3 linked regions of the Homo sapiens genome follow. The protein of the gene in region 3 purifies or fractionates together with the protein of the main gene of each other region. This does not show direct contact. Each region holds a gene or a part of one and is shown on either strand. Other genes may lie near its edges.

What was found.
Region 1: the proteins of SLBP (region 3) and CCNF purify together in Homo sapiens (affinity purification with western blotting; 2 studies listed by BioGRID, with this or other methods). This does not show direct contact.
Region 2: the proteins of SLBP (region 3) and ACAD11 purify together in Homo sapiens (co-immunoprecipitation; 2 studies listed by BioGRID and IntAct, with this or other methods). This does not show direct contact.

Annotation. Positions count from the first base shown.
Region 1 is NC_000016.10:2,431,679-2,441,256, reverse strand, and holds part of CCNF (cyclin-F), read right to left. Parts: intron 8,297-9,578; coding exon 8,190-8,296; intron 5,452-8,189; coding exon 5,384-5,451; intron 4,129-5,383; coding exon 3,935-4,128; intron 3,188-3,934; coding exon 3,134-3,187; intron 1,905-3,133; coding exon 1,800-1,904; intron 1,509-1,799; coding exon 1,431-1,508; intron 1-1,430. UniProt on the Homo sapiens protein: Substrate recognition component of a SCF (SKP1-CUL1-F-box protein) E3 ubiquitin-protein ligase complex which mediates the ubiquitination and subsequent proteasomal degradation of target proteins.
Region 2 is NC_000003.12:132,648,006-132,657,583, forward strand, and holds part of ACAD11 (acyl-CoA dehydrogenase family member 11), read right to left. Parts: intron 6,666-9,578; exon of another isoform or gene 6,425-6,665; intron 1-6,424. UniProt on the Homo sapiens protein: Acyl-CoA dehydrogenase, that exhibits maximal activity towards saturated C22-CoA.
Region 3 is NC_000004.12:1,690,950-1,696,616, forward strand, and holds the end of SLBP (histone RNA hairpin-binding protein), read right to left. Parts: intron 5,403-5,667; coding exon 5,253-5,402; intron 3,892-5,252; coding exon 3,825-3,891; intron 2,765-3,824; coding exon 2,648-2,764; 3' UTR 1,782-2,647; downstream 1-1,781. UniProt on the Homo sapiens protein: RNA-binding protein involved in the histone pre-mRNA processing.

The sequences.
Region 1 (9,578 bases), on a different chromosome or scaffold from region 3:
ATCCAGCTAATTTTTTTTTTTTTTGAGATGGAGTATCGCTCTGTTGCCAGGCTGGAGTGCAGTGGCACAATCTCGGCTCACTGCAACTTCCTCCTCCTGGGTTCAAGCAATTCTCCTGCCTCAGCCTCCCGCGTAGCTGGGACTCTAGGCACATGCCACCAGGCCCAGCTAATTTTTTTGTATTTTTAGTAAAGACGGGGTTTCACCACATTGGCCAGGGTGGTCTCGACCTCTTGACCTCGTGATCCGCCCGCCTCAGCCTCCCAAAGTGCTGGCATTACAGGCATGAGCCACTTGCACCCAGCCCATCCAGCTAATTTTAAAATTTTTTGTCGAGATGGAGTCTCACTATGTTGCCAGAGCTGGTCTTGAACTCCTGGGCTCAAGCGATCCTCCCAACTCAACCTCCTACAGCGCTGGGATTGCAGGCGTGAGCCATCACGTCTGGCCTTCTTGTAAATCTGTAGACTGGCTTTTTGGACGTGAACACCACAATGTGCTATGACACCTCGGGCTGGGCCATTATCAATTTGTAATTTTGTCCCTAGCATTTGAGCGCAGATCACTCTGCCACCCACTTGGTGGGGTGACAAGAACAAGCTTCTATCCATTTGGCAAATAGGAGCTTTCTTTGATTCGTCCTGACAACTTTTTTTTTCCTTCAGACAGAGTCTTGCTCTGTCGCCCAGGCTGGAGTGTAGTGGTACTGCAACCTCTGCCTCCCGGGTTCAAGCGATTCTCCTGCCTCAACTTCCTGAGTATCAGGTGCCTGCCACCACGCCCAGCTAATTTTTGTATTTTTAGTAGCGATGGTTTCACCATGTTGGCCAGGCTGGTCTCGAACTCCTGACCTCAGGTCATCCGCCCACCTTGGCCTCCCAGAGTGCTGGGATTTCAGGCGTGAGCCACCGCACCTGGCCCTAACAACTTATTTATAGCTGTGAGGGGAGAGTCTACCAATGCTTGATTTCCTGCCTGTAGCCCTGGATGACTTGGTGACCAGGTGACATGACAAGCAAGGCGCTAACAGGAAGAGGAAGCAGGAAGGGACTCTCCACGCCCCTCTGCTCTCAAGTAGCCTCAAGTTTTGTTGTCAAGATCAGTTCTACCTATGGGACAACTTTCAAGAATGGCACAAATTTTGACAGCAGCTATAGCTCACAAGCATTTGAAAATTAAGAGGTTGGCTGGCTGAGAGGCAAGAGTGGATAGGCAGAGATGAATAACGCATTTCCCAGCTCTTCTCACAGTGTACCTGTCCTTTAGGACCAGTTCCAGTGCTGAACCGATCTTAGGGTGTCCCTCAATCCTGGCCTCCCATGTGGGAGCCCAGATAGTCCTGCCCCCCAATGTGGGAGCCCAGATAGTCCTGCCCCAAGGCTGGAGGGAGAAAGGCCAGCTCCCCACGTCATCCCAGCCCCGCACCTCACCTGCGCTTCCCAGCAGCCTTTGGCAGCGTAGTCCCTGAGTTTTCGGAAGCTGTGGAGGCATCGCCCAGGATCTGACACCTGTCAATGGGAGATCACCGAGCCTTTGTACAACTGTGTCTTGGGAGGAACTCAGAACCAAGACCCAGAAGGGCCGACACTACGCTAACTTCCCACCTCTTCTCTCTCAAATGGTGGAGTCATTTTTGGGGGTACCAAGAATAGCCGACTGACCAGTGGTTCCCGGAGGCTGAGAGACCGGGAGCAGCAAGAGCCACCTCCCTTTTGTGGACAGAAACGCATCCAAGGACCAGCATCAACTACGCCTTTGTCCAGCATAACTCCCCCCGACCCAGAGCAGGCACCACTCACATCTGTCCTCCTGTCGCTTTCCCAGAGGAGGTAGGAGCTGGTCAGACATCCCTGATGAGCAGCCTCCTCAAACAGGTCATGGGCCTGCTGCTGCTTCTCCTCATCCTAGAATAAATCCCAGCAGAGTTCATTGTTCCCTTATTCTTTTTCATTTTTATTTTTTGAGACAGTTTCACTCGTCGCCCAGGTTGGAGTGCAATGGCGCCATCCTGGCTCACTGCAACCTCCGCCTCCTGGGTTCAACCAATTCTCCTGCCTCAGCCTCCTGAGTAGCTGGGATTACAGGAGCCCACCATCATGCCCGGCTAATTTTTGTATTTTTAGTAGAGACGGGGTTTCACCATGTTGGCCAGGCTGGTCTCAAAATCCTGGCCTCAGGTGATCCACCCACCTCAGTCTCCCAAAGTGCTGGGATTACAGGCATGAGCCACTGTGCCTGGCTGGTTTTTTTGTTGTTGTTGAGGCAGAGTCTCCCTCTGTCACCCAGGCCAAAGTATAGTGGCACGATCTTGGCTAACTAAAACCTCAGCTTCCCGGGTTCAAGCAACTCTCATGCCTCAGCCTCCCAAGTAGCTAGGATTACAGGTGCCCACCACCATGCCCGGCTAATTTTTGTGTTTTTTAGTAAAGACGTGGTTTCAACACATTGGCCAGGTTGGTCTCAAACTCCTGACCTCAGGTGATCCACCCGCCTCGGCCTCCCAAGGTGCTGGGATTACAGGAATGAGCCACCATGACCGGCCCTTATTCTTTACTTGATGTTCAATCACTCTACTCACCATCTTCCTCCTTTTCCATACTTTTTTTTTTTTTTTCTGAGACTGAGTCTCACTCTGTTGCCAGGCTGGAGTGCAGTGGTGCAATCTCGGCTCACTGCAACCTCCGCTTCCCAGGTTCAAGCAATTCTCCCTGCCTCAGCCTCCTGAGTAGCTGGGATTATGGGCACCCGCCACCACGCCCAGCTAATTTTTGTGTTTTTTAGTAAAGACGTGGTTTCACCATTTTGGCCAGGCAGAGAGGTCCACACGAGCAGGAGAGGCCCACGAGGAGCAGGGCCAGCAGACGAGTGAGCATCGAGGTTCGATGCCTCCTTGAGATCTGCTCTGCTGTTCTCACCGTCCCCCACTCCCCTGCCAGGCGGGTCATGGAGCCAGGATCGGAGCCCGTGGCCAGGCCCACATGTGTCCCCTGGCTTCTCCAGCTAGGCCTTTCTGGGCAAGGCTTGCCTTTTGTTTTGGGCCTTGGACACCCCCTTCTGCTGCTTTTCAGTTCCAGGATCTCGGCTAGGGATGTATCGAACACAAAGTCCCAGTGCAGAGAACAACTTGACTCACCTCGAACAGACTCAGCACTCTGCCCAAGCAGTGCAATATGGATGCTTTGTGAGTCTTTAAAAAAAGGAGAAAGAAGTGTGATTTCCAGCACAGAGAACTGCCCGGGGGCCACCACTCCCTTGTCTGTCTTTGGGTCCCATGCCCATGGCCCTGCTGTCTGGCCCTCCCTCCCCTGCAGAGGGCCACTCCCAGATTTCAGTCTTTTTTTTTTTTTTTTTTTAAAGGGAAACAGGGTCTTGCTCTGTCACCCAGGCTGGAGTGCATTGGCATAGTCACGGCTCATTGCAAGCTCAACCTCCCAGGCTCAAGCGATCCTCCCACCGCAGCCTCCTGAGTAGCTGGGACTATAGGTATGCACCACCACCCCTGGCTAACTTTTTTGTATTTTTTGTAGAGACGAGGTTTCGAGATTTCATCATGTTGCCCAGACTGGTCTCGAACACCTGGCCACAAGCAATTCTCCAGCCTCGGCCTCCCAAAGTGCTAGGATGACAGGCGTGAGCCACCACACCTGGCCAGATTTGTGTCTTGAGCTCCCACTGCCCCATGCAGCCTCAGCCCCATGTTTCCAGCTGTCAGCACGTGTACCCAGAACTCCACAGCCCACCCTGGCTCTCAGGCTTCCTCCTCTGTGCCAGCTGATTTCCAGATGCGTTCCCCATATCTGCACTCTCAGTTTTCTGCATCTTCACTTCCCTTAGGCTCCTGACTTTCCAGGGTCCAGGATCTACCCTCGGGGTCTTCCTGTGTCCTGGGACCCTGCAGGTGGCCTCGCAGGTGCTGCCCCTCGCCCAGACTCACCCTCTGCAGCTGGCACTCTGCCCTGAGGCTCTCGTGAACCACGGCCTTGCAGCAGCTTCCGCTCACCGACCACGGAGGGCGGATGAAGAGCCAGATGAAAGGTGCGGCACCCACATTCAGCCGCTCAGCGAGACTGAAGAAGCGAGAGGCCTTCAGGCCATTCACTTCTGCGCGGGCCTCATCAGACACAGACACTGCGGGGACAGACAGGACAGAGCCCAGGGATGTCTCTTAGGGACGGAATGTGGAAAGCTCTCCATGGTCTTGGTGGAAAGTGTAATGCCTGAAGCCCACCATAGTGCAAAGCAGCTGTGTTTCAGGAGAGTAGAGCCCTCCAGGATGGGGGCACCTGTCTTTTCTCCCCCTACTTCATTAATGTCTAGAACAGGTGGGTCATTGTGATCAATGCCCCTGCTGTGGTCCTCCCGGAAGCCTGGATTCTGAAGGTCAGGGGAAGGAGACCCCGCGACGCTTCATGTCCCACCCTCCCTCCAGCTGGGAACCACCGCCTGACCCCTGGTAATGGGTCCAGGGCAGGGGTGGGGGTTCTTTTTGGGACGAGGAGAATATTCTAAAATTAGACAGTGGCAATGGCTGCACAACCCTGTGAATATCCTAAAAAACCACAGAATTGCAGGCTTTAGAGGGGTGAACTGTATGGTGTGTGAATTTTATGTCTGGGAACTGCTCTTTGATGGGAGGGTAGGGGTAGGACCTCGGCTCCCCTGATTCTGGAGGAGGGTGTTGCTCATGGTCCCTGTCAGTCACAATTCTGCCAGCCGGCCAGGTAGGGACTCTCTCCCAGCAAGACACCAGATCGTTTAGAAGTACAAATGTGGGAGGCTACATCCCAGTGTTTACTTGTTTTGAGAGCTGGGACAGATCATGGGCTCGTTCCTTGGGGTGCTGAGCAGATAAGCAGTTAACTGGTAGAAGAAAAGGCTGCGCAAGTTTCTTTCAAGGAGCACCTGGCCTCTGGGGATGAAGGGATCCAGGCACCAGGCCAGTTCTAACCTGCCTGTACCTGCTTCCCGTTTAGAAGCCTGGCTCTGTGTTACAGGGCACGCTGAACTCTGTCTCGAGAGTTCTAAGAGGATGGCCAAGGAGAGGGCCAGCATCCACAGGCAGGTCTGCGTGCTCATGGCGCACAGGGCAGGGAGCCCAAACAGCCCCCGTGCTGAGGCTCTGGCTCAGTCACTCTTTGCCAACTGAAATTAAAGGGTTTGCTAAAACAAGAGGCGACTTTCGTAACCTGCAAAGTCAGAGTATCATTAGCAGGTCCCTCAGCAGGGTACATCTGGGCACGAGCTCCTGAGAGGGAATGGGGAGGCAGGCCATCGGATAGAGCAAGGACAGCAACTGAACTGCTAACACGGGGACCACTTCTTCATAGGGCCAAAGGCTCACACTTATCTGAAGCGCCAACATGCAGGTGGGGTGAGGACTTACGGCCTTCATTGTAGAGGTAGGCTATGCCCAGCTTCACAGCAGCTTCGAAATTCCCCTTTTCAGCAGCCCTGAAACATTAAGAACATAAAGCATCACAATATTTTATGCCACAAACGTTATGAACTACTACAGCACTTGAAGAAGTCAGAATACTTGTTCCCTGAATTGAATATATATATATATATATATATATATATATATATATATGTGTGTGTGTGCATATATATATGTGTGTGCATATATATGTGTGTGTGTGTGTGCATATATATATATATATCTCTCTCTCTCTGAGACAGGGTCTTGCTCTGTTGCCCAGGCTGGAGTGCAGTGGTGCGATCACAGCTCACTGCAGCCTCAACCTCCTGGGCTTAAGCCATTCTCCCACCCCGGCATCCCAAGTAGCTAGGACTACAGGCATGTGCCACCATGCTCAGCTAGTCAAAAAAAAATATTTTCTTTTCTAGAGACAGGGTCTTGCTATGTTGCCCAGGCTAGTCTTGAATTCCAGACCCAAGTGATCCTCCTGCCTTGGCCTCATAAAGTGCTGGGATTATAGGCTTGAGCCATCATGCCCGGCTCTAGAACATTTCTTTTTTTTTTTCTTTTCTTTTCTTTTTTTTTTTTGAGACGGAGTCTGCTCTGTTGCCCAGGCTGGAGTGCAGTGGCGCAATCTCGGCTCACTACAAGCTCCGCCTCCCAGGTTCACACCATTCTCCTGCCTCAGCCTCCCGAGTAGCTGGGACCACAGGTGCCCGCCACCACGCCTGTCTAATTTTTTCTATTTTTAGTAGAGACGGGGTTTCACCATGTTAGCCAGGATGGTCTCGATCTGATCTCATGATCCACCCGCCTCGGCCTCCCAAAGTGCTGGGATTACAAGCGTGAGCCACCACGCTCGGTCGAACATTTCTTAATAACATGTAATCAAATACGAATTATCCATTACATGCTATGACACAGATGAACCTTGAAAACATCAGGGTCCGTGAAAGAAGCCAGCCACGAAAGACCACGTGTTGCATGATTCCATGTGAAATCCTCACAAAAGGCAAATCCGGAGAGACAGAAAATCAATTAGGGGTTGTCTAGAGTTTCCAGGATTGTGGGGAAAATGGGAAGTGACTGCTGATGGGGACAAGCTTTCTTCTTGGGGTAAGGAGAACGTTCTAAAGTTAAGTACTGGTGATGTCTGTACAACTCTCAGTATACTAAAAACCAATGAGTTATACATTTTATTTATTTATTTACTTATTTATTTATTTTGAGACGGAGTCTCGCTCTGTTGCTCAGGCTGGAGTGCAGTGGTGCGATCTCGGCTCACTGCAACCTCTGCCTCCTGGGTTCAAGCAATTCTCCTGCCTCAGCCTCCTGAATAGCTGGCATTACAGGCATGTGCCACCACCCAGCTAATTTTTGTATTTTTAGTAGAGACAGGGTTTCACCATGTTGCTCAGGCTGGTCTCAAACTCTTGACCTCGTGATCCGCCCGCCTTGGTCTCCCAAAGTGCTGGGATTACAGGCGTGAGCCACTGTGCCCAGCCATATTTTATTATTTTATTATTATTTTTTTGAGACAGTCTTACCCCATCACCCAGGCTGGAGTGCAATGGCGCAATCTTGGCTCACTGCAACCTCCACCTGCTGGGTTTAAGCAATTCTCATGCTTCAGCCTCCAGAGTAGCTGGGACTACAAGTGCCCATCACCGCATCCAGCTAATTTTTGTATTTTTAATAGAGACAGGGTTTTGCCATGTTGGCCGGGCTGGTCTCGAACTCCCGACCTCAAGTGATCCACCCGCCTTGGCCTCCCAAAGTGCTGGGAATACAGGTGTGACGCCACACCCGGCTGAGTTATACACTTTAAATGGATGAATTGTGTGATGTGTGGATAATGTCTCAATAAGAAATATATACATTCCCCCTGGAAGCAGCCCAAGCATGGCCGCGGCAACATGGCTGCCTGCCCTGGTTGGCTGTCGATCTGGATTTCTGGCAACTCAGATGGACGAGGCTCACAGCGAATCCCTGTCAGAAAAATGCCCGCCTGAGATCAGGAGGTCAGGAGATCGAGACCATCCTGGCCAACATGGCGAAACCCCATCTCTACTAAGAATACAAAAATTAGATGGGCGTGGTAGCGCGTGCCTGTAATCCTAGCTACTCAGGAGGCTGAGGCAGGAGAATCGCTTGAACCAGGAGTTGGTGGTTGCAGTGAGCTGAGATTGCACCACTGCACTCCAGCCTGGTGACAGAGCGAGACTCCGTCTCAAGAAAAAAACAAAAACGAAAACAAAAAACAAAAAACAACAACAAAAAAGAAAAATCCCCGCCTGAGCTGTGGTTCCTTGGTTTGTTCTGAGGGCGGCGGGTACCTGGGACCATGAGCACATGTGAACAGGGGCCAGGGTGCGGGGTGCAGGTTGGGGTGGGATCAGCCAGTGAGTGAAACGCTATAGGATAGAATTCAGATGGTTTTGACCAAAGGGAAGGAAGGCTGAGTGAAGTTTCCACAGGAAGGTGACTCTTGTCTGGGTCATGTGGGAATGGATCACAGCCCTCTGGAGGCACCACGGGCCCGTGTCAGTGGCGTGAGGGATGACTGACTGCATAGCCTGCTGGAAGGTGTGTGGCTTGTGCGGCCTGATGCGTGAGGTCTGCCACCCTCAGTCACTCCCCAGGGTATGAGGCAATGTCATGGGAGACAGCAACAGGAAAATCGTTGCTGAATCAGGCCGTGAGACACAGACTGGCACATAGGGAGGCCAAGGCAGGAGAAGACTGAGCCATTCTCAGGGTGCAGAGATACCTTTCAAAGAGCTTCAGGTTCCCTGGAGACGGCCACAGCTCCTGGAAGCTGGCACATGCCCACACACTGGCGTGGTTGTCCACCAGGTCCTTCAGCTGGGAGTGTACCTGCAGAACAACGGGGGCCGGGGCTGGGTGATGGAGGCACCACCCAAAAGCCCCACACCTGGAGGCTCTTGAGGACGAGAGGCAGATGTAGGGTCTCCTGTCTCCCTCGCCATCCCAAGTAGTTGAGGTCCCCAATCTCTGTGTGAAAGTAACTGTCACTTTGAGCAGATAAAAGAGCCCAGAAACGAGTTTCTCTGAGGTTCTAAAGCAGGGCAGAGGACAATGATCTGGGAAGGAGGAAACAAACACCTAGGCTGAGAAAGAGGGTTCAACATCCCTGCAAAGGTATCACCCCCAAAGACAGGGGAAACACTCTAAAAGGGGGCAGGCAGGACGGAAATGTGTTTTGTGCTTCCCCGCTGGAGGCCTTGCTAGTGGGAGTGTGGAAACAGGTCACAGGGACTCAGGGCAAAGAACAACACCCATGATGGAGGTCTCAGGTAGAACCCGGAGCCTAAGCGCTGGGCCAACGCAGGAGTGTCCAGGCCAGGACCTGGAGCACAGGTGAACACTTTAAGCACCAAAGTTTCCACTGCCATTGGAAATTCAGCACCCCCTGGGGTCCATAAAGTGTGTCGCACCTGCAATGGAGGTGGCTTTGGGAGTCAGAAAATGGGTTCTTGCTGGCATTTCCCCATGAATCCACTATATACTCTAGGTTAAGTCACTCAAAGTAAGCCTATGGTTCCAATATCTAGAAAATAACTCCTAGAGTCCATTTCAGTGTTAAATGTTACATGGAATTTGTCCTCAAGAATGTATTCTTATTCTTTTAAACACTATCCTATTTTTTAAGGGATGCAAATTTCACTGCCATAAAAGGGTACTTTCAGCCGGGTGCAGTGGCTCATGCCTGTAATCCCAGCACTTTGGGAGGCCGAGGCGGGCGGATCACGAGGTCAAGAGATAGAGACCATCCTGGCTAACACAGTGAAACCCCAACTCTACTAAAAATACAATAAATTAGCCGGGCGTGGTGGCGGGTGCCTGTAGTCCCAGCTACTCGGAAGGCTGAGGTAGGAGAATGGCATGAACCTGGGAGGCGGAACTTGCAGTGAGCCGAGATTGCGCTACTGCACTCCAGCCTGGGTGGCAGAGCGAGACTCTGTCTCAAAAAAAAAAAAGGTACTTTCTTTGTTGACACTGCAATGAACAGAGGCAATTTTAGTGTGCTAGGAGACAGCAGTAGGAATTTCTGTAATCAGAATGTCTTAAAGAAAGCATCTGGTAATGATATCATCCTTGTTTCCTTTTTGCCCTCCTTTTTTTTTTTTTTTTTTTG
Region 2 (9,578 bases), on a different chromosome or scaffold from region 3:
CTCCCAAAGACCCCCCACCTCTTAATATCATTACCTTAGGAGTAAGGATTTCAACATATGAATTTTTGAGGGACACAAACATTTAGATCATAGTAAAGCCTCATGCCCTACAGAAGCCATTATCTGTAGTAGCAGTCTTTTGGCACCAGCTTCCAGGGCCCTAGCAAAGGACATAACTAGTTGAAAGAACCCTCTACACTTAGGGAAGCCCAAAGCTATGCCTTTCCACCAGATACTTAAACAGTTCATTTACAGACCTTCCAGTTCAGATGCAGTTTACTAATTAGATGTTATTTTTACCATAAGCAATGTTGCCTGGAAACACATCTGATATGCCACCTTTACCAAGTTTTCAGAATTACAGAGCTAGAAAATTAAATAAATTTATCCATAGAGCAGGAGAAAAGATTTTTAACCCTTTATTTATATCACGGTTAACAAGTCTCAGACTCATGGCATCATCCTAGAGGGTGCATCTACCTGCATCTCTAAGCTTTAGAAACTCAGAAATTCCTATAGGAATTTTTTAACAGAAAGGAACTGGAAAAAAAAAAAAGCATAGGCCCTGATAAGGGAATCAGTTGTGTTTGTGGATATCCAGGAAGCCACTTATCCCTTGTGCAGAGATTTGAAAATATTTAGGATTTGCTGCTTTTTAATTTTACTCCTTTTCCTTTGGTGGAAATCATGACTAGTGGAATCATGACTATTCTGACCAAGTGCGTTTAATAAAACCACTGAACAGACTCAGACCTTCACTAACTATCTACTCTGACAACCAGTTTGGTTTGTGTAGGGAAAAGAGAGATCAGACTGTTACTGTGTCTATGTAGAAAGGGAAGACAAAAGAAACTCCATTTTGACCTGTACCCTGAACAATTGCTTTGCCTTGAGATGCTGTTAATCTGTAACTTTGCCCCAATCTTGAGCTCACAGAAACATGTGTTGTATGGAATCAAGGTTTAAGGGATCTAGGGCTGTGCAAGATGTGCCTTGTTAACAAAATGTTTACAGGCAGGCAGTATGCTTGGTAAAAGTCATCACCATTCTCCAGTCTCGATAAACCAGGGGCACAATGCACTGCGGAAAGCCGCAGGGACCTCTGCCCTGGAAAGCCAGGTATTGTCCAAGGTTTCTCCCCATGTGATAGTCTGAAATATGGCCCCGTGAGATGGGAAAGACCTGACCGTCCCCCAGCCCGACACCCGTAGGGGGTCTGTGCTGAGGAGGATTAGTAAAAGAGGAAAGCCTCTTGCAGTGGAGATACAGGAAGGCCACTGTCTCCTGCCTGCCCCTGGGAACTGAATGTCTCGGTATAAAACCCAATTGTACATTTGTTTAATTCTGGGATAGGAGAAAAGCCACCCTGTGGTGGGAGGTGAGACATGTTGGCAGCAATGCTGCTCTGTTACTCTTTACTCTACTGAGATGTTTGGGTGGAGAAAAGCATAAATCTGGCCTACGTGCACATCTAGGCATAGTACCTTCCCTTGAACTTATTTGTGACACAGATTCCTTTGCTCACATGTTTTCTTGCTGACCTTCTCCCCACTATCACCCTGCTGTCCTGCCACATTGCTCTTGCTGAGACAGTGAAAACAGTAATTAATAAATACTGAGGGAACTCAGAGACTGGTGCTGGTGAAGGTCCTCCGTATGCTGAGCGCCGGTCCCCTGGGCCCACTTTTCTTTCTATATACTTTGTCTCTGTGTCTTATTTCTTTTCTCAGTCTCTTGTCCAGACTGACTAGAAATACCCACAGGTGTGGAGGGGCTGGCCCCCTTCAGGTTTGCTCATTAAGGTTTACAAAATTGAGTGAGCAATGATGAAGGATAACAACCAGCCCGGCAAATTTGAACTCACGGGCATTCCTCCTAAACCCTTTGGATTTCCACAAATTTAAATAACTTTTTATATTGATGCCAACAGCATCTCAAATGTGTTTGCTGTTGATAAGAGATCAGGAAAAAAGAAGATTAAAAGACAAATGACCCAGTGTTTGCCCATGGAAACACTGAGTATTTGGTCCAAGAGGCATAGAAGTACAAAGCTGGAAAACGAGAAACAAAGAGACAGAGTTTCTTGTAAGAAGTTGCTCAGATCCTATGTATTCAATAGGCCACAGTGAAAAATGAGAGACGGCAAAGCAGAATCAAAGATGAAGTCAAACACAAGACTCCTGACAAGTGCAATGGAGTCATCAATGACTGGTCAAGAATCTCATTACTGAGAAGGAAGAATTTAACATCAGCCAAAAGAGCTGGAGAGGGTAAAAACCCTGCCGTTATCACAGTGTAACAGAGCTAGCACCATGCTAGGTGCTTTGCTAGGGACTTCCCTAGAAGTGGTTGCCCATCCTCTAGAGGTGTGTCTTCTGGAACCATGACTACAGAAACAGAATAAGGCAACCAAAACTCAACATGAAGTTTGAACATGAACACACAGTCATGAAATCCTACTCTGATTTGTAGGAAGTCAGTTTAGTGACAGTTTTTTTAAAAAATCATACTTGGGCTGCTATTTCATATATTATTAGACATTTTGAATATCTGAATATACACAGGGTAAGGAAATACAGTTGCACTTTATCCACATGATAAATAGGTAGAAAGTACAATTCATGATAGAGGACAAAGGCTTTTAAAGTTGGCATCACTAAAAAAATAAGAAAAACAGTGAGTCCAGACTACTTAACTTAGTGTAAGACTGTCCCTCCCCAGCCCCAATACATACCTACAACTTCCCATTTCCTATCACTGACAGCACTACTACCTTGAGACCACCGGAACTGGTTTCATTGTGTTCTTTATCCCTCTTTATATCATCAATACCAGAAGTCCCAAATTCCCCTTTTATACTTGTTTACTGCATTGTAATTCCCATAAGGCTCTGCACATTCCCTATTTTCTCCCACATCTTCTCCACCCCCTCAACTCCTGATATCCTTCCACTGTGCCCCTGGAACTCACAGTCTTTCACAATTCCATACAGCTTCAATATCTTCTCTGAATAGACCCTTCACCTCCTTGCTCTAACTAAAACCTGAATATTCCATGAGGATCCTGTTTCCTTTGTAGGCTTCTTAAGTGGTAGATGTTTTTCCCACATCAGTCTTCTAGTAAGCCTGGATGGAGTCTGTATCCTTCCTGAAACTCATTGCTACTTCCAGACTCTTTGCTCTCCCTCCTGTGTAAATTCTTCCCTCAGCTTTGAATCTCAGGCCATGAGACTCTGCCACCCTCTACCCCTTTTTCTTGCAGTCACCTACTAACTCTCAGATCATTTCTCCTCATTTCTTAAGGATCTTGGCATAATTCACTATTACTCTCATTAACACTACTCCTGTCTTAATTACTGATTTCAAAATCTACACAGATGTCCCTTTTAACATTTAGGCCCATCAGTTCCTTGAATTTTCTCCACCAGTGATATTTTCCTTGACACTATCTCAGCCAGTAATTCTAGGAGTTACACCCTACACTTTAGCAATATCAACAGTAAAAGCACTGAATAATCCTAGTTTCTAAACATTTCTACCTCTAACCTCCTACCTTTCCACTCACTCCTGCTAGTGCCTCAATTCCAACAATCCTTCAATCAATACTTGACCTACCATCCATTGATCATACTGCCATTCACCTCATATCCCCCGACCATATCCTTTGCCCAAGACTGTGGGAGCCCACCTCTTGCATCACTGTGACCTGGATGTGAACATGGAGTCAAAGGATATCATTTTAGAACTTTAAGACTGTCCCACTGGATTTTGGACTTGCATGGGGCCTGTAGCCCCTTTTATTTTGGACAATTTCTCTCATTTGGAACAGGTATATTTACCTAATGCCTGTACCCCCATTGTATCTAGGAAGTAACTAGCTTGCTTTTGATTTTACAGGCTCATAGGCAGAAGGGACTTACCTTGTCTCAGATGAGACTTTGGACGGTGGACTTTTGAGTTAATGCTGAAATAAGACTTTGGGGGACTGTCAGAAGGCATGATTCATTTTAAAATATGAGGACATGACGTTTGGGAAGGGTCAGGGGTGGAATGATATGGTTTGGCTGTGTCCCCACCCAAATCTTATCTTGAATTGTAGCTCCCATAATTCCCAATTCCCATGTATCATGGGTGAGACCTGGTAGGAGGTAATTGAATAATGGCAGTGGGTCTTTCCTGTGCTGTTCTCATGATGGTGAATAAGTCTCATGAGATCTGATGGTTTTATAATGGAGAGTTCCCCTGTACACATTCTCTCTTGCCTGACTTCATGTAAGACATCCCTTTGCTTTTCCTTTGTCTTCTGCCATGATTGTGAGGACTCCCCAGCCATGTGGAACTGTGAGTCCATTAAACCTCTTTCCTTTATAAATTACCCAGTCTCGGGTATGTCTTTATTAGCAATATGAGAACAGACTAATAAATCTTTCCTTAACTAGGTTAAATTTGATAGCAAATCATATAACCACTACCTTGAATACACCTTCAGTATACTTCACTTGCCCTTTCCTCACTTCATGGTGTTTGCTTGGCAAAACTCCCATCCATGTTAAATCCATTTTTTTTTTGCTTACACTGATATAACTGGCCATAGCTGAAGAAAGACACATACAGTCATAATTACTGTTTTAGGTTAGGTTCCCAATAAACAGATCATGAGAAAAAAAATTATATACAAGTGACTTATTAAGGAAATGTTTGGGGAACTAATAAGAAATTTGGGGAAGCAGGTCAAGAAAGGGGAGAAAGCTAAGCAAAGGTGTGATCTAAGACAAAGTCCCTTAGAGGGTAGCTTCAGCCTGATCTCACCAGTGTGTAGGTGGGGGTAAAGGTAATGGGGGAACTCTGCCGTGTCAAAGTTCAAAACATGTCTCTGAAGCAAGGATAATGAAAATTTCATACTTCTGAATCACTATTGGTTAAGGTCCACCTCAGGTACTACAACAGTAAGAGCAAAGGGTGCTCCAATAGCCTGAGGGCAGTTTACCAAAAAAAGAGGCATAGATGCTGTTTATTGGAAGCAAAAACCAACAAAGGCAGGACATGTACAGCAACACTAGAAAGGGATCCAAGAGGATCTGGACAAAGCATTAGTAATATCTACTGAAATATCTATTCTTGCTTCAAATTCATGACCTCAGCAAACCTCAAAGTGAACCACATCTGGCAATCATATTTCCTTAGCTCATTTATTCTCCCATTCTCTTGGATGGCTGTTTCATAATTCTCTCTCCTCAAACCTCAAACACTTTCTTCTCCATCTTCATTCTCAGCTAATTAATTACCTAGGTTCCTATTTCAACGAGCAAATAGGAGCAATCAGATGAGAACTTCCACAAGCTTACACTACTGTATCTACTGCATACAATAATCTGTACACATATATTCTGTCTTCCCTCCAAAGTCTGCAGAAGGACGTGCACATTTCTATCTAAGGGCAACCCCTTCTCTTGCATATTAGAGTCCTGCCTTCTTAAGGACTTCTTTCCAGGCCTCTCTCCTACACAAAATTTTCTCTTCTAGATTACTGTCATCAGCATACAAATATGATGTTATTTTTTAAAAAGCTTTCTCTTGACCTCACTTCCCCCCTACTTAAAACATTTCTATTTCCTTTCGTAGAAAAACTCCTCAAGAGATTACACGTCCTCCTCCTATCTTCTTAAACCCATTTCAATCAAGCTTTCATTCCCTTCTTTCCATTAATACTACTTTTTCAAGATCACTAATACAAACCATGGTTTTCCCCCACCTCTTTGGCCACTTCTTCTAAGACTCCTTTGTAGGTTTCTCTTAATTTGCTAACTTCTTAATATTGGGGTGCCTTGGACTCAGTCTCCAAACCTCCTTTTTATGTGAACTATTTTCTAAGTAAGACCTTCGATCTTATGTCTTTAAATATCTTCTTTTTGTCGATGGCTCTCAAATTTATATGTCTAGTCCAGATCTCTGCCCCGACCTCAAGACATAACCAACTGCTTACTATACATATCTACTTGGATGTCTAAAAGGCATCTTGAAACTTAACACTCCAAAACTGAGTTCCTCAAATTTCCCCCTCAAATCTGCTTTTCTATAGTCACCTACATTTCAGTTCACAATAACCCTATTCTTTCAGTTACCAAGGCAGAAATGAAATAATCTTCGTCTCTTCCTTTCCTAGCCCACATTTAATCAGTTAGTAAACCCTTCAAAATACAGTCATGCATTGCTTAATGACAGGGATGTGTTCTGGAAAATATGTTGTTAAGTGATTTTTGTCACGTGTAAACATCCTAGAGTGCACTTACACAAACCTAGATGGTATAGCCTATTATGCACTGATATATAATTATGTTTTATGATCATAAATGTCTCATAATGGAGTCACTTATGACAAGTGACTCAGCTTACAGTGAAATCACTGACCACTCAGAGTAGTAAGCATATGTGTGGTGGACTGAGGTGATAAGATAGCATCTGCTGTGGCCAGGCATCCCTGACACCTGACAAGAAAGTAAAGCCAAAAGTCAGCTGAAGATAATGGCCATGGAGATGTCTGTGGAGAGCCGTAAAAGCCAATCATGGCTGAGATGCCTGCAGAATCTCTGCCCATGAGAACTCTGAGGCCTCCTTTCCTTTGGCTGTGGTAAGCCCTCTGGGAAAAGAGCAGCTACCCACCACCAGGTCAGTGGGCATTCTGAGGAAAACCAAACCTGGTTTTCTCAGTCAGTGTGCTGGTCTCCCAGAATACTTGCTGTGTTTCCCTTCTCTATTAATGCCTATGTGTGTTGGATAGAGTTACATGATTGTTGTGTAGAAGCCACACAATAAATCGTGAATTCCTAAGCATTTAATTGGCACTGATTCGTTGTGAAACTTCTCAGCTGGTTGGAGTTAGCATAAATAGGCTGATTTGAACCCGATAGGACACACCTGAGCTCTGTGGTACAGCCTGCTGCTCCTAGGCTATAAACCTGTGCAGCATGTGACTGTACTGAATACTGCAGGCAATTAATTGTAACAAAATGATAAGCATTTGTGTATCTAAACACATTTAAACATAGAAAAGGTACAGTAAAAACACAGTATTATAATCTAATGGGACCACTGCCGTATATGCAGCCCGTCATTGACCAAAACGTCATTATGCAGCATGTGACTATATACTTACACTATGACCACTTCTTACCCATTCTACACTCCCACTCTGGTCTATGCCACTGATATCTCCCTGCTGGAACACTGTAATACATTGGTGTCCTTGCTTCTGCCCTTGGCCCCTTCAGTCAACTCTCAACACAAGAAGCAGAGATTCTGTTTTTTTTGTTGTTGTTGTTTGTTTGTTTGTTTAAAGATTACTTCCCTCCTCTGCTCAAGCATGTTTTAAGTCTCTCTCCATCTCAATTCAAAGTAAAAGCCAAAGTCTCTTTATTGCCTGACAGGGTCCCTGTTGCCCTTGCTTACACTACTTCAGGCATTTGGGCTGTGTTTCCTCAACACACTGGGCACACATCCCTTCCAGGGCCTTTGCATTAGCAGTCCCCTCTGTCTGGAACACTCTTTTCCTGGATATTTACATGGCTCACATTTTCATCCCCCTTCAAGTCTTTGCTGAATGCCGTGTGCTCGAGGAAATCTTCCTGCCCCACACCCAAACATTTCCTATTCTCTTTTCCTCCATGTTACATATCAACTTCTACATTGTAAAGTTCAGAAGCTGATTTTCCTGTCTGTCTTCTACAAATACAATGGAAGTTCCAGGGAGGCAAGATTATTGTTACATCCTCAGTGGTTGATACAGTGCCAGATACATATTAGGCACTCAGCTGCAAATCACAAGTTTTGTTGTATCAAGCTATATAATACTTTCATTATTGATTAATTCTAAATATTTTATCTTTCCAATAAGATTTAATTTTTGCAAATTTTAAAAGTAAATCTTGCAGATAAAAAGAGTATTTATGAAATTGGTAAGGCATGAGGAATAGTAATGCCACAAACACCATTTTCACTACCCGGAGAAAATTACTGTCTTTGAAACCCTGTATGTCCTTCCCCTTGAGTGACTACCATTCTGAATTTTATATTTATCATTCCCTTGAAGTTTATCTCTGTATATAATATACTGTTAATTTCTTCACGTTTTTCATTCTGTGTTATGTACAGCTGTAGCTGAATCATTTTCACTGTTGTATGCTACTCCATTATGTGAATATACTGCAATTTATTCATCCATTCTGTATCTATAGACATTGTGTTGTTTCCTGGATTTTTGCTATTACAAACAGTACAATGAACATCTTTGTAGATTGTCCCCTTATACTGTAGTACAAGAAAAGTCTCAGGAGTATGTATCTATGAGTAGAACTGCTAGGTCATAGGTCATGTGTATCTTCCCAACTTCATTTTTACAAGATCATGTTGAGTTATTTTTCAATAGCAGCTATACTAATTCACACCCCTATATGAGTCCCTGTTGCCCCATATCCTGATGCTTGATATTGTCAGATTTTTTTTTTTTTTGAGACGGAGTCTGCCTCTGACTCACCCAGACTGGAGTGCAGTGCTGTGATCTCAGCTCACTAAAGCCTCTGCCTCCCAGGTTCAAGCAATTCTCCTGCCTCAGCCTCCCGAGTAGCTGGGATTTACAGGTACCCACCACCACACCCAGCTAATTTCGTATTTTTAGTAGAGACGGGGTTTCACCATGTTGGCCAGGCTGGTCTCGAACTCGACCTCTGGTGATCCACCTGCTTCAGCCTCCCAAAGTGCTGGGATTACAGGCATGAGCCACTGCACCCAGTCTATTGTCAGATTTTTTAAAAGTCAATTTGGTGGTGTGAAATGGTTTCTCATTGTGTTGTTTTTTTTTTTTTAATTTGCATTTCCCTTATTACTACAGTATAATAAAGTTGAGCATCATCAAGTTTTCGCCCATTTTTCTGGTGAGCTATTATAGTTATATTCTGAATATTTTAACCATTATATGCACTGAAAATATTTTCTTCTGTCTTTTCACTTTAAGTCTTTTAATGAAAATTTATCAGTCATTTCCTTTGTGGTTTCTGCTGTTGTCTTTAAAATATTTTCTTCTCTAAAGTCAAAAATATAACTTACACATCTTCCAAACATTTATAGTTTAACATTCAGTTCTTTTATCTACCTGGAACTGTGTGAGATAAAGAGTCTAATTTCTATTTCTTCATACAGATAACAATTATTCCAGTATAACTTCTTGAAAAGTTCTTCTTTTCCCCCCACTGACTCTCAGTGCCAACATTGTCACTTATCAAACTTCTATAAATATGTGGGTCTTTCTGTGAACTCTCTGTTCTATTTTATTGGTCTGTCTATCTCTGTGCTAATATCATACCATCTTAACTCAAATTTCCCACCTTGTGGTTCTTTAAAAATGTTTCTGCTATCCTTAGCCCTTCGCTCTTACACATAAAATTTAGGAGCACTTTTTCAAATTAGAGAAAAAAATTAGGATTTTGATTGTCATTGCTTTGAATCAATAGATCAACTGGAAGAAAAAAGTTTGCAATATTGAATATTCCTATTCAACAACATGGCATCTCTCAATTTTTAAAATTC
Region 3 (5,667 bases):
AGTCCCCTAAGCCAGCCTCAGTCCTCCAGGCTCCTGGCTCCATCTCTGAATTATCCTTCTTTTTCACAAAAGGCAGCCTGTGTTTGCAGCTGGAGAGTTTTATCTTCCTACTTCCCGCTGGTAGGAACCTGAGGGTTCAAGGCCTCTTGTATTGCCTGGCCCTTTCAGTCCAGCCTGGCAGCAGCTTCCGCCCATGTTAATTCTGTGACTCTTAATAGGGTTCAGTTCATTAGAAGCCACACCTGTGGGGCTTTTCAGACTAGCACCATCTTGGGCTCCTGCAGAGGAGCAAGAAGTCTTATTGAGGGAAAGAAAGGTTCTAACAGCTGGGCGCGGTGGCTTACACCTGTAATCCTAGCACCTTGGGAGGCCGAGGAGGGCAGATCGCCTGAGGTCAAGACCAGCGTGGCCAACATGGCGAAACCCCAACTCTACTAAAACTACAACAATTGGCCAGGTGTGGTGGTTCACGCCTGTAATCCCAGCTACTCAGGAGACAGGCAGGAGAATTGCTTGAGCCAAAGGAGGTGGAGGTTGCAGTGAGCTGAAGGCACACCACTGCACTCCAGTGAAAAGAGAGAGAAAGGTTCAACTTTCTATGGTTAACAGAGGATTTCATGCCACACCCTCAGCTTTAGCTTAGATCACCTTTCCAGCTGTCTTCTGGATGTCATTTTTGCTTGGAAGCCACTGAATTTTAGCCTAAGAGCACTGAGTGCTGCTCATCGCTAAGGACCTGCTCACAGTTTAGGGGAAGTAGCTCCTTAGTGACAAACCCAGGAGAGCTGCTCTCCGTCAGTCATGATGGAGGCCACAGCACCACTGAACTGTCACCATCTAACAAGGACCTTCACCTCTGCCTTCTCAAGACTGAGGCTTGCAGTCAGGCCCCCAGAACTCCTCCCACATTTTAGGACTCTTGAAGTCAATGCTGAGTGCTCCCACTTCGTGGCCTCTGCTTGCTGCCCTCCCCAGATGTCACCTTTTATCAGGCACCTCCTACCACCCTGAAAGAGCTGGGTCTCCTCACCAGGGCATGTGCTACAACCCCAGTGTCTACCACCCTCCACCTGACACTGCTTGAGGTCTCCATAAACAAGCTAAGTAAACAAGAGCTTCTGCCCTCTTCAAGCTCCTAGAACAAAGTTACCTGAGCCCATCCCTGGCTTAAGACCAGCCCAGCATCACTTGGAGGGATCTCCGGGACAGGTCGCTGTGGCGTGGACTAGTGGTCACGTCTGCAGGCAGCAACCACGGTCCAAGGGTGAAGGCAGTGGGAGCAGGGCACCCTCAGACTGATGATTATCCTGCTGCAGGGTCTCTCCCAAGAGACAGGGAAGGCTGTCATGCCAGTGCTGATGAATAAGCATCAGACCAAATGTGACATGTGACACCTATTAAAGAAGGCCCCCGGCCACACGCAGTGGCTCAAACCTGTAATCCCAGCACGTTGGGAGGCCGAGGCAGGCAGATCACTTGAGGTCGGGAGATCGAGACCAGCCTGACCAGCATGGAGAAATCCTGTCTCTACTAAAAATACAAAATTAGCTGCGTGTGGTGGCACATACCTGTAATTTCAGCTACTTGGGAGGCTGAGGCAGAAGAATCGCTTGAACCCGGGAGACAGAGGTTGTAGTGGGCCATGATTGCACCATTGCACTCCAGCCTGGGCAACAAGAGCGAAACTCTCAAAAAATAAAATTAAAAAAATAAAGAAGGCCCTTTACCCAGCGCCACTCACTGAGTGCCACTTGCTTCAGACACAAGAAAGGCAGACACAATTCTGACCCTCCAAACATGTCAGCTCTCACGGCAGCTGGCCCACCTGGCAACAGCCCCAGTCAGTGAAAGAGGGTTCTTTCCTTTTTATTTTTGCAATATCCCATACAAAAGCAATAGAAACGTAACAGTCTTAACAAGAAGTTTACAATTGAATATTTGAACAGAAAATCTGTACACATTATCATTTACAGCAATTTTACATGGTAAATTAACTGATTGTTTTAAAATGTTCTTTCTAAATCGCTCCACTCTGCTGCCCTAACTCTTGGAGTATTCTAAAGAGTCTAACTAGTGCTATTTACAAGTACCAAATTAAGACCATATAACTTACATAAAACTCATTAGTTTAATAGCTCAATTTAACAATGTCTGACTTCAGAATGCTGTTATGACATATTGATAAAAGGCCAAAAATTAAGTTTCCATAAAGATATTAAAGGTGTCTGAGAATACTTTGATGCCTATAAAAGTAGCTGACTCTCAATTGGTCCCATGGATTACATGGTTAAATCCAAAACAGTCCACCTGACAAGCAATAACTGAAGATGCCTGTGGAAAACCAGTTATGTAGACGTGTCAGCTTACCCTGGAGGACAACAGGGATTACGCAATTAAGCTCGCTGGAAGAGAGCTTCAAGTACTTTCTTGGACTTAGCTCCATTTACAATTTAAAACATGCAAAATATACTCACTATACATAAAATTAATGTTTCTTAAGAAAGTAAGGCAAAAATAATTCAGCATGAGCTAATGGACTGCTAACAGAGAAACCACCAGGTACAAGTGCACACACATGCTTGGTGCCTGGCCAGCCTTCCACCTAGTCGGGGAGGAGCTGTTTCTCTTCCTGGCCGCCAGGGGGCAGTTAGCTCATGGCTGAGAAGTCTCTCAAGGGTTCAGTTAAACAAGCTTCCAAATCAAACTCATCCTCCACTTGACTGTCCATGTGTCTCACCTTGGTGGGTGTGCCAGAGTACACATCCTGGAAAACAGAAGCATGGCTCGGTTGACATTCATCTCACCCTGAAAACAGGGGCCCCTTCCTACACCCCACTCCTTATGTGGTAAATCATGTGATGTAATGCACAGCAAGGTGTACACTTCACGTGCAACTGAGACAGATTTTAATAATAACACTGCAAAGAGAAACCACATGTACCATTTACAAGACACTGACGTTTAGATGTGCACACATCCCATTGTGCTGGGATTACAGGAAGGAGTCACTAGTCACTGTGCCTGGCCATGTACATAGTTTATAAGCACAGAAAGAATTGTAAAAGCCTAGACAAAACCACAAATAGTGGCTGTCTCAGGACAGGAGACAGTATTTAAACTGATACATTTAAAAACGGTTTTCTTTTCTCTTGAGACAGAGTCTCACTCTGTCACACAGGGTGGAGGGCAGTGGTACAATTTCGGCTCATTGCCACCTCTGCCTCCCGGGTTCAAGTGATTCTCCTGCCTCAGCCTCCTGAGTAGCTGGGATTACATGCCTGCATGACCACACCCAGCTAGTTTTTGTATTTTTAGTAGAGACTGGGTTTCACTATGTTGGGCAGGCTGGTCTTGAACTCCTGACTTCAGGTGATCTGCCTGCCTCAGCCTCCCAAAGTGCTGGGATCACAGGCGTGAGCCACCACGCGCAGCACATGGTTTTCTTTCTTTTTTTTTTTTTGAGACAGAGTCTTGCTCTGTTGCCCAGGCTGGAGTGCAATGGCGCCATCTCAGCTCACTGCAACCTCCACCTCCTGGGTTCAAGCTATTCTCCCACCTCAGCCTCCTGAGTAGCACGGACTACAGGCACCCACCATCATACCTGGCTATTATTTGTATTTTTGTAGAAACAGGGTTTCACCATGTTGGCCAGGCTAGTCTTGAATTCCTGACTTCAGGTGATCCGCCTGCCTTGGCCTCCCAAGGTGCTGGGATTACAGGCGTGAGCCACCGTGCCCAGTCCAAACTTCAGTTTATAAGGCAGCATGTGTTATTAACAATTCACCTGCAACCCCCAAGCTGAAAGACTTATCCAAAGTACTTACAAAGTCATCCTGAGAGCTGGTCTGGGGCTCGGAGCTGCTTTCTGCAGATTCAAGGTCTACAGGGTGTCTGTTAAACAAGATCCAACATGTGCGTCAGGCACTAACTTAACAAAGCCAGGAGACGGGGCGCTACAGACAAACCCCATCCATATGGTACAGCCACAACACTGACAGTGTGCCCGAGGCTCCCTGAGGGGTCAGCTTTCAGTGACTATTTGACAGACTTAATCCCAGCCCAATCAATCCAGCAAAGAGAAAGCGGATGGCAATGAGAAGCAACAAAAAGATCTGCTGGGCTCACCACACAAGCATCCTTGGAAACAGAAACACTCATAAGCCCAATTTTTGAGGGGGAGAAATGAGCACTGTGATGAACATACTATGCATTATCACTAATTTTTCCAAGTTTCTACTCAGAGAATGGGACAATGGTGTCACACTGGGGGAAAAAACCCAAATGACATCTGTCAGGACAAACTGGTAAAGCCACTTACAATCGTTTCAAACATGCCAGTCTCTAAAAAATTTCCCAGCACAGAGGAGAAACTCTAATTGTTTGTTTAAAGAATGTGTCTGAGGAAGCGAGAGGCTCAGGACCAGAGGGGAGCTGAGAAGAAACCCCACATAGAGGGAGGGAGGTACACGATCATTCTCTCTACCTTCCTGGTCAGCAGGTATTGCCATGATGCAGCAAAAGTTCAGGCCTGAGACATTTCAACTAGGCACAAGTTTAAAGGCCAACGGGGCTGGGAGCAGTGGCTCACCCCTGTAATCCCAGCACTTTGGGAGGCTGAGGCGGGTAGATCACAAGGTCAGGAATTACATGGTGAAACCCCGTCTCCACTAAAAATACAAAAAATAGCTGGGCGTGGTGGCGCGTGCCTGTAATCCCAGCTACTCAGGAGGCTGAGGCAGGAGAACCACCTGAACCCAGAAGGTGAAGGTTGCAGTGAGCCGGGATCACGCCACTGCACTCCAGCCTCGGTGACAGAGCATCTCCCAAAAAAAAAAAGCCAACAGAGAAAGAAAGCCTTCCTTCCTTAATTAAGAACTTTTATTTTCATGGTTGAGCCGAAATGACTCAAATACTTTTTAGGATATTTATATTTAAAAAACAAATTCCAGAGATTATTGTAATTTTTAGGGGAAAAACAACTACAACAACAAAAACAGCAAAACAACAAACAAAAACTGTATTCCCAGATTGACTTTGCTTGAAAAAATAAATTCAATCCAGGAAGCAAACTCTTCCTTCCAGCTGCCTCCCTCCCAGTACAGAAGAACTCAGCACCGAGCTGCAGCAGCTGCTCTGCTCCCCAACAGCTGCTGGGGGACTTGGCACCAGACCTCCTGTCCCAGTGGTGCGCAGCTGCTCCAGTCACTGGACCAATCAGAGAATCACAGGACAAGAATGCAATAAAGACATACATTTCTTGCAAATCACATCCTTCTTCCGCTGGAGGATCCCAAAAATGCAGAGCCACCTTCCAGAGTTTGATTTGCTGGTCCCATGAACGTCGACTATACTTCTTAAATTTATTAGGGGTCTTGGGATGAATGCCAGGTTGTCGAAGGTGTCTACAGGAGAAAGATTATTCTAGCACATGCCCACATGCCACTCACATTTCCACATTAGCCTGAAGATTAACCAAACTATGAGATTAGTATTATTTTAAATATTACAGATCACCAGGCATGGTGGCTCATGCCTGTAATCCTAGCATTTTGGGAGGTCATGCCAAGATCACTTAAGCTCAGGAATTTAAAAATGGCCTGGGCAACACAGTGAGACCTCGTCTCTATTTAAAAAAAACAACAAAACAGAACAAAAAAACAGCTAGGG